Regions from separate parts of the Homo sapiens genome. Here all the other regions are linked to region 1. Evidence: fine-mapped expression QTL. A gene starts in region 1. Each other region holds a variant in brackets. All regions are shown on one strand. Distances are between the middles of the regions.

Region 1 (2,763 bases):
TGCTCAAGGTCACACAATTGTTCGTGGACTAGAATCCAGGTTTTGATATTTCTACTGCAGCCTTTTCTGTATCTAGAATTATTTGCCTCTATAACTGTGTCCAGTGTGCATTAATTTGAGTTAGTTATAAATTCTTAAAATGAAAAATGAACACACACAGCAACAGATTTGTACTGACTTAAAAATAAAACAAATCTCGAAATGCAGAACCGTGAACAGGCTATAAAATTTGATTCACATTCCTTATATATTTTCAACAGCCTCACCTTGTTTAATAATTAAATAAGTGTTAATCATAAAGTACATAATTATTATACAGTTATTGTGCCATAAGGACTATAAACAGCCAGGTGTTCCTAGCACAGGAAACAAAAATAACTTACAATTAATAGTTCAAAAAGAATGCCATTTATGAGTGCTGTAAGAATGCCAAGAGTCACAAAAGTTAGGGAATGGGTTGAAACAGGGAAGGCTCTACAGGAAGAGATTTCTTTTTAAAGTCAGAAATTAAGAGGTCACTGATATGGGTGAGCGGTGACATGTCAGAAAGAAAATAGGACGTAGAAAAGGAGTACAAGGTAAAAAAAATGCTAACGACAATTAAGGAAGCCTGTTGTAGATGCTCTATAAATATCTGACAAGAATTAAATCTAGCGTAAGATAAATGTAATTCCTTTTCAAAATCGCTCACTTCTGCCTTTATTTTCCATGTAATTATTGTTATCATTTTAGCACTGTCACGCACACAGCTCTCCTGTTCACTAGAATGATTTTGTAACTTTTAACACTCATTAAATGTTTTGTTTATCAAGAGATCCAAAAATGTATTTCCTTTCTTGTCAACTAATGAGAGTTACAACTCCAATTAACTTAGCAGCTAAATAAGAGGTCCAGCAATTTATCTTTTACGTGGTTATTCATAGTACATTGCGGTATAATTTTCTCTCTATATGCACTCTTAGATCTAGCTGTTTTCAGTGGTTCCCATCTTTCATATCTTAATCAAAGGCATCATGAACCCTCTGGAAGCTGGACTTCTCTAGCTGGAAATTTCATCCCTTCGCTGGAAATCTAGCCAGCCCTCGCTACCCCTAAAAGTCTCCTGAGTTTAAACGGGGGCACATGTTTGACACACACACACACAACCGTCTGCGTTCCAGGACTTGTCATCATTGATGCAGTGCAGCTGTCACGGCGGGATGGCAATTTGAAGAGAGTGGGGAGGGGGCGTGTAAAAGGGGACAAGAGAAACTCACAAGGCTTGATGGAGAGTGACAGGCAGAAGAACTCCCACCTTCACTTCTGGGCAAATTCTGTGACGCGGCCGCATCCTCAAACCGTAGACCAGGCTTTAGCTGCTATTGACGGGGCGGGGGCGGTCTCTCACCTCTCTCCGCTCCCACCCCCAATACAGGGGGTGGCTCTAGTAAACACTGTCCTCCAGGCCCCACTGGGAGCCTGGGGGGCGTTGCGCGCGGGCCTGGGCCCCGGGGAACCTCGGACGGGGGAGCGGGAAGGAAAATGGGGCAGGGCACGCGGAAGACCCCCGGCGCGGGCCGACTCCCCACCCCCGCCCCAGTGCCCTTACCTGTCCCGCAGCCCGTGCTGGAGTTGGCCCAGCCTCTCGTAGTAGTCGGGACTCGACAGGGGCACGGCCGATGCGAGGGTCCGGCTCATGCTGCTGCCGCTGCGCCAGCTCAGCACAGCCTCTGGGTGGCCGTTCGGCCGGGGTTGCCGAAGGAGACCGCCCCACCATGCACCGCGGGTAAACACCGCGCCGGGCCGCCTGCAGGAGGCGGGGCAAGACGCCGTGGGGGCGGGGCGCCGCTGAGGGACGGGGCGGAAGCCGGCTTTGTGGGGGGCGGGACGAAGACCTGCATGGGGCGGGGAAGAGGCGTGGCAGAGGCGGGGCGTCGTGAGGCCGGGGCGGACCACGTCGGAGGGGCGGGCGCTCGGTGCCCTCTCCTCTCTCCCTTGACGCGGTGTCTCCTTTCCCCTCACCTTCCAGGATTCGCACAAGCTACGTTAATGTTACAAGGCGCATTCCCTCCCTTTCTTTCGTCTCTCGCTTGCTTCTTTTCCTCGATCTCCTTTCTTGCCAGGATTTGTTGAGTGCCAGGCACTGTACTAAGCTTGTTCTATTATATCAGCACTCAAAAGCGACACAAAACACCAAGTAAAAAAAGACAAACCCTCAAATGCTAAACAGCCGTGCTCAGCCCCGACAGTGGACCAACCCCTTACTCGAAAATCCGTGCTGAATCTAAGGATTGTTCCAGGTGCCAGTATCGTTGGCGAGAGGGAAAAGTTGATAACTAGTTGCTTGGGAAGCAGACGTTTGTGCAGACAGCTCTAAGGGACAATGCTCCTAATGTCCTGTAGGATCCTCTAGCAGGAGCCCGGGAGCCAGACTGCCTGGGTGTACATTCCCTATCCACGTCCCAGCTGCCAAGCCGTGTGCAAGTCACCCCAGGTTTCCTCATATGTAAAGTGGGAGGCTGTTAACACAGGATTAGTTTAGGATTCGATTGTTAATATGTGTTAGTGTTTATAAGTGGGCCCAGCACATAGAAAGCATCAGGTTTTATTATCATCACCAACGTCGGGAAAAAGCTTCCTGAAGGAAGCCAACCATATTTCAAAACCCACTGGGCAGAAAAATTAAGCCTTAGCCTGCTTCTCTGCCTTCCTTTCCTTTTTTTTTTTTTTTTTTTTGAGACAGAGTCTCACTCTGTTGCCCAGGCTGGAGTGCAGTGGCGTGAT
Region 2 (2,763 bases), 90 kb before region 1:
ATTATTATACTTCACAGATAAAATTGAGTGTCTAGTATCTGCTTGGCACTTTCACAAATGATTTCATTTAAACTTTAAGACAATCCTATTGGGCAGTATGTCTGCTTTCCCAATACAGAGGCTCAGAGAGGGTAGAGAAACAGAGCAAGGAGTAAAAGAGCTGACACTGATGGCTGGTTGCAAAGCCCCAGCCCAACTGCTACATTTCCTCAACCTTCAGGGGACAGCCTCTGGAATATTTTCTTTGGAATATTCTAGAAGGAATGCAGCCCACACAAACACAACCAGCATGCACCCACACAAACAGGACACCCCAACAGAACTATTATAAAGAGGCAGACAGACTCTGTCTTAAATTAAACTACATACTTGCTTTACTCTACCAAAAGTGAAATCTCCAAATAGTTATGCCAAAGTCACAAACATTTAATAAAGGGATGATGGTCAAGAACTTAGAGATCAAAGTAGCTGCAATGATGGACAAAGCAACAGTATTAGTAGTGCCAAGGTGCGTGAAGCTCTCAAACATGAATTTCATGGGAGGTCCCTGGGTGGGGATAGTACACTGGCAAGGACAGAACAGTAACACCTTAACAATGTGTATGGCTTTGCTAAGTTTTTAAAAAATTTCCAAAGTACTTTTTTTAATGTCTAATATTCTGGCACAAGGCATTTTTTTTAACTGCCAACTATTGATGGATCAATGGCAGGTTGCTGGAATTACAATTTCTTTTAAAATCTTAATGGCAAACAGCCCAAGTTGCTTCTAGCCATATTGCACTTCTGCATGAGAAGGGATTTGAAACCCTGGTACTTAATTATCCGTTTTCTTATAAAGAAAGTATATGAGAAAATACATTTGCATTAACTTTGGGGAGAGTCAACTACTCCCAGCAAGGGATGATTGTAAAGAATACTGAAAAGAGAAGAATGAATGAACAAGGTCATTTCCTGGTTTCTCCTCAATAATCCTTTGTAATTTTAATTGAAATAAATTCAGAGGCCATTAGATACTTCTGCATCCAAAAGTAAATGCAAGAGAAAAGTATCCAAATGACTTCATGGTTATCTGTAGTTTGGGATCATCTACATTTCTATTAATAAAAATAGCAGGGAGCCATACCAGAGTTTGCAGAAAATGCAGACTAAAAACACAATAAACATATCATTGGTGAAAATGTTTAAAATAAAAAAACTCTGCATTTTAGAGTGAAATATTATCTGAATGCATAATATATACAATAACTGCTCTACCATAAACTGCTTTTTCAAAACCAGAGTTCATCACA[G/C]AAACATGAGTTTAAAAAATTAATCATGCCAGGAACTGCACTGCCATAAAAGCAAGCCATTCTTTTCTGCTTATAAACAACAAAACTACCACATATGCAGATGCATGCCTCAGTACCTTGGTGCAATGGTGTATTTACTTGTGTAAATATTTAAAGTCAGACCTTTGAATTTATAATGAAGTAGTACACCACTTCACAAAATAAGGTACTAGTAAATTCAGATGTATGACAAGTAGAACTCTGTACAGAATACTAATTGCTGCTGTTCTTATTCTAAAAAGAAAAAAATAATGATATCGTTCAGATTCCACCTAAACAAGCCTAATACATGTGCAGAAATCTTAATAGGTCTTGATGAAGCCCGATTGGTACAATTTTTAAATTATCAGACAGGCTTTGTAACTGAGGCAAACGCAAGCTTCCTATCTGACATTTTTTTATTATCTGCTTATTTTAATATACATATGCAATTACTACAGGAAAGAAAACAGTAAAATCAGAAACATCTATAGTTTGCTGTGTAATGACCGGGTGTTCCCCAGGGAGATGGACCTTTTTACAGAGACGCAGGTGCTGAAAGGGCACATGATGGAGGATGTTACAGGTGTAAATATATAACATGGTGATGAAGAATTCAATAGACACGGTGATTTTCCACCTTAGTTTATGTTAACATAAGTATATATGTTCTGCTCTTAGGATTAATCTCCTGCTCCAGCATGCAGTAGCTGAATACATGTGCTCTTAGTGGGGTCCACAAACCACTGACCCAAAATGTTCCGCTTATATAATAATGCTAAATCTTGTGTCTGAAACTCTTAGGCAACCATAGCTTTACCTGTGATTGGGATATCTGCAGCCACATTTTCTTTCTTGCTCTTGTCTCCACAGCCACTTGAAACTTCTAAAAATTGAATGCATAATAAAAAAAAAGTATTTCAAAGTTAAGGAATAGATCCTTTGGGTGTTTGTCCTTCCCTTTATGTTCACTTTTTTTTTTTTTGGTTAATGTATTTCTTGTCTGAAACAATACTGTTCCTAAAAGGAAACCTATTCTAAAATTAAGGTATCTCATAGACAAAAATTTAAAAATAAAATTGAATTAAGGTACCACTATGCTGCTTTCACGCAAAATAACTGGGCCTGACATCTATCAAATTTAGGTGGGACATAAAATAAGTGAGTCTCACATCCTGCACATGTACATCAACTCGAGCAATTCCTGAGGAATTCATAGCTGTCTTGGAAAACCATTAAAGCAGTTAAATGGCATGTCTTAGCAGTAATGCTTAAATAATCACAGTTTCTGGGTGCTCAAAATGGGTTATTAAATTTGGGGAGCATAAATTCATTGATTCTTAATCAACTGTTTAGACACTGATAAGGTTCTATTATAATTAAAAGTAATGTTTACAATTATGAGAAAATTCTATTAGGTGATATCAAAAACTTCACAGTACTTTATGGAATCATC
Region 3 (2,763 bases), 120 kb before region 1:
GTAGGTAGCTGTCCTTCTAGAAGAGTGATTCACAGTGGGGTGCTTGCTAAAAAGGCAGATTCCTAGGCCTAGGTTCTACAGCAGCTCTGAATCAGTTTCCATACTGGGTTAGCAAAGTGGGACATACTGGGGCTAAATAAACAGCGAATATTTTTGTTATTGTCAGTAAAACTATTAATCAAATTATACCTTTAATTTAAGGTATAAGGGGTTTAAGGAGACAGGAGGTGAGAGAGCCCAAGCTGGGCAGGGGATATGCCACAGTGTTATGGTAGGAGGGCTAGATTTTTCCCGTGAGTTGGGTGTTGAAGGATGAATAGGAGCTCACTGGGCTGAGGAAAAGGAAAAGGAACTCCCTACAGAAGGAACAACATGGGCAAAGGTACAGAGGCATAGGTGTGCTACAGCTGAAAAAAGCTGACTGTGGCTTGACCCAAAGAGGCGACCTTGGGAGGAATAAGCTGGAGAGCAGGGCTGGGGCCTCCCAGGAATGGAGAAAGCTCAGACTCTACCCTGAAGGTACGGGGAGGCATTGGCCGTCCTTACACAGGAAGGTCGGGGGAAGCCAGGGTTTGGAGGCTGGTGGCCAGGTGGAGGAGCTGGGAGTTCCCAGGAGCTGGGAGGAACTGGGTATGAGGAAACCAGTTAGAGTTACTCCAAGAGCCTGTCCGGTCATGAGCAATGGGTGCTTCTGAGGATGAGGAGAGAGGCAAGAAACATTTCATTGGTAAAATACAGGGTGCTGATAATTAATTAGACATGGAGGCCAGGATCCCCTGCAAATTCATACTTGCAAATTACAATGCTCTGCCCCTGTGGTCCATGGCACCCGTGTGGTCCTGTCTGTGAAGAACTGAGCCTCCAGAAGCCCTCAGGTTCCACCCCAGGGACAGCTGCAATGGCAGTCCCTGTGAGCATGCCCGCTTCAGGACTCACATGAGGGTGCAAACAACAAATGCATGTCACAGAGTTTTTTGGTTAAAACAGAAAAAGAAAATCTAGTGTCCGATTATCTCTCTCACCATTAGATTTTAAATTGATCACGGGTTTCTTTTTGTTTTCATGCCTGCAAAATAAAGAAACAGTCTAAGTTCTGAAAAAGAAAAGACAATGAGACTAATATTTTCATAATGAACGCATTAGAGAAGAAGCACTTTGATTCACTGGAGGCCAGAACTTTACACTTACTTCCCAGAGTTTAAAAGTAAAGGGAAAATATCGGGATGCAGCGTGGCCTTGTCGGGAGGGTCGCTACTCAACAGCATTGCTCCCGTCCTGCGTGTGTCCCCTCGGCAGGTCTGCATGGCCCACCCCGCCCTGCTGAGCTGTGCCTGTGTGGGGCCACGTGTTCTTGGGGGAGGATGATCGCATGTTCCCCTGAGGCAGGGGACCGGTTTCCCTCAACAGTCTTCTGGAAGACAGTGATGCATCAAACTTCAGTGCTTTCAGGCAAGCTAAAAATGAAACACTTGCAGTAGGGAATTCAAGATGTTGGTAAGGAAGTTAAAATACTTAGTCAAACCAGTGGCAGCAATACTAACAGTTAAGAAAGGAGTTCAAAACAAACACCTGGTAGAGGGCCCTGCAAGTGTCACATAAATGCTAGTGTT[C/T]GTGGCGTCCAGGACCGTCTCGACTGAGGCCAATATGACAAGAAAACTGGCTCCACGGGATATGATTTCTCTGTGTGCCTTTTCAGGAGCTTTTGCAATTTTAATGAATTTAAAAGTCTCCTCAGGGAGTGTCACTCGAATGTTTTATGATGCTGAGATTCTTTCAGAATTGCCTGAATGGTCACAGGAGATGTTGGGAGAGAAACCATTCTTGGTGCATGGCTCGACACTTTGCCCTACCCCACGCACCACCACCGCCCTTCTCACAGCCAGGGCCTTGTTCTTCTGGACACAGGAAACCCTGCAAATATATCTTTTCCTTCCCTTTGGGCCAAGTGTGGTTGACTTTTGGCTTAAAAATCTACGTTTTGCTATAATTTACTTTTTTTTTTCAGAAAAACATGCTCCACTAAGGTATCATTTTCTAGGCTACCTTTCAGTGTTCCCTTTAAATTTAGTGCCTGTTTCTTTAATTGCCATGACTGAGTAGTGCTCACAGCCATTTCTCCATGAAGCATGGAAGACCCCTACGAGCATCTGGAAAGGCCAGCAGCTGACTGACAGTCCTGGAGCTGCCAGGATTGTGGGGACCTGTCAGTGAGGTGAGCCTGCAAGAACCCATTTTACAGAAAGTGACACACACATCACACACACACTAAATGCAACTGCAGGGATGTCTATTATTTCCCCACCTCCCCCTACCTGAGGACACTGGGCTAGGTGCTGCAGGGGAGGGTGGATTATAAAAATGCTAGGAGGGGTGGAAAGAGGCTAATTTGCCAGCCGCGGTCCATACAAGAAGAGCCACAGGGGGAGCAGGAGAGATCTCTGCCAGCTGGGTGGATGGAGAGCACTGTGGCAGGTGATTGGGGGAGCTGCAGGACCACAGAGGAAGCCCGGCACCTCCAAAGGCAGAGGCCTTCACAGGACAGGACTGGGGAACAAGGTGTGGCGGGGTGGGGCAGCAGGGAGCCCCTGACACAGGAGAAAGGACACAGTGGCAGGTGAGCTCAGCTCCTCCCGTCTCAGCAAATGGCACCCCTGACCCACTAGTCTCCCCAAGCCCCTCTCCAGTCTCCACTCCTCTTTCCTTCACATCCAGTCTGGCCCTCGGTCCTGCCAATTCCACCCCCACCCCTCTCGACCCCCCTGC

The links. PIP is the estimated chance that this variant, and not a neighbour inherited with it, causes the effect.
Region 2: its variant is the best candidate, but not a certain one, in a credible set for the expression of KIZ in skeletal muscle (GTEx, PIP 0.60).
Region 3: its variant is the best candidate, but not a certain one, in a credible set for the expression of KIZ in whole blood (TOPMed, PIP 0.56).

What each region holds. Positions count from the first base shown.
Region 1 is chr20:21,125,030-21,127,792 of GRCh38, reverse strand. It overlaps KIZ (kizuna centrosomal protein), which reads right to left and starts at 1,711. Exons shown (of 13, transcript NM_018474.6): 1 at 1,589-1,711. The coding sequence starts at 1,677. RefSeq lists enhancers at 1,193-1,242, 2,143-2,242 and a silencer at 1,403-1,982.
Region 2 is chr20:21,215,013-21,217,775 of GRCh38, reverse strand. KIZ (kizuna centrosomal protein) reads right to left here. Exons shown (of 13, transcript NM_018474.6): 9 at 2,128-2,193. The region is part of intron 1 of KIZ-AS1 (KIZ antisense RNA 1); the gene reads left to right. Among named protein-coding and RNA genes, the nearest start is that of KIZ-AS1, 1.9 kb to the left of the region's middle. The variant G/C (reference allele first, on the strand shown) is at 1,290.
Region 3 is chr20:21,242,548-21,245,310 of GRCh38, reverse strand. It overlaps KIZ (kizuna centrosomal protein), which reads right to left. Exons shown (of 13, transcript NM_018474.6): 12 at 1,023-1,066. Among named protein-coding and RNA genes, the nearest start is that of KIZ-AS1, 26 kb to the right of the region's middle. The variant C/T (reference allele first, on the strand shown) is at 1,611.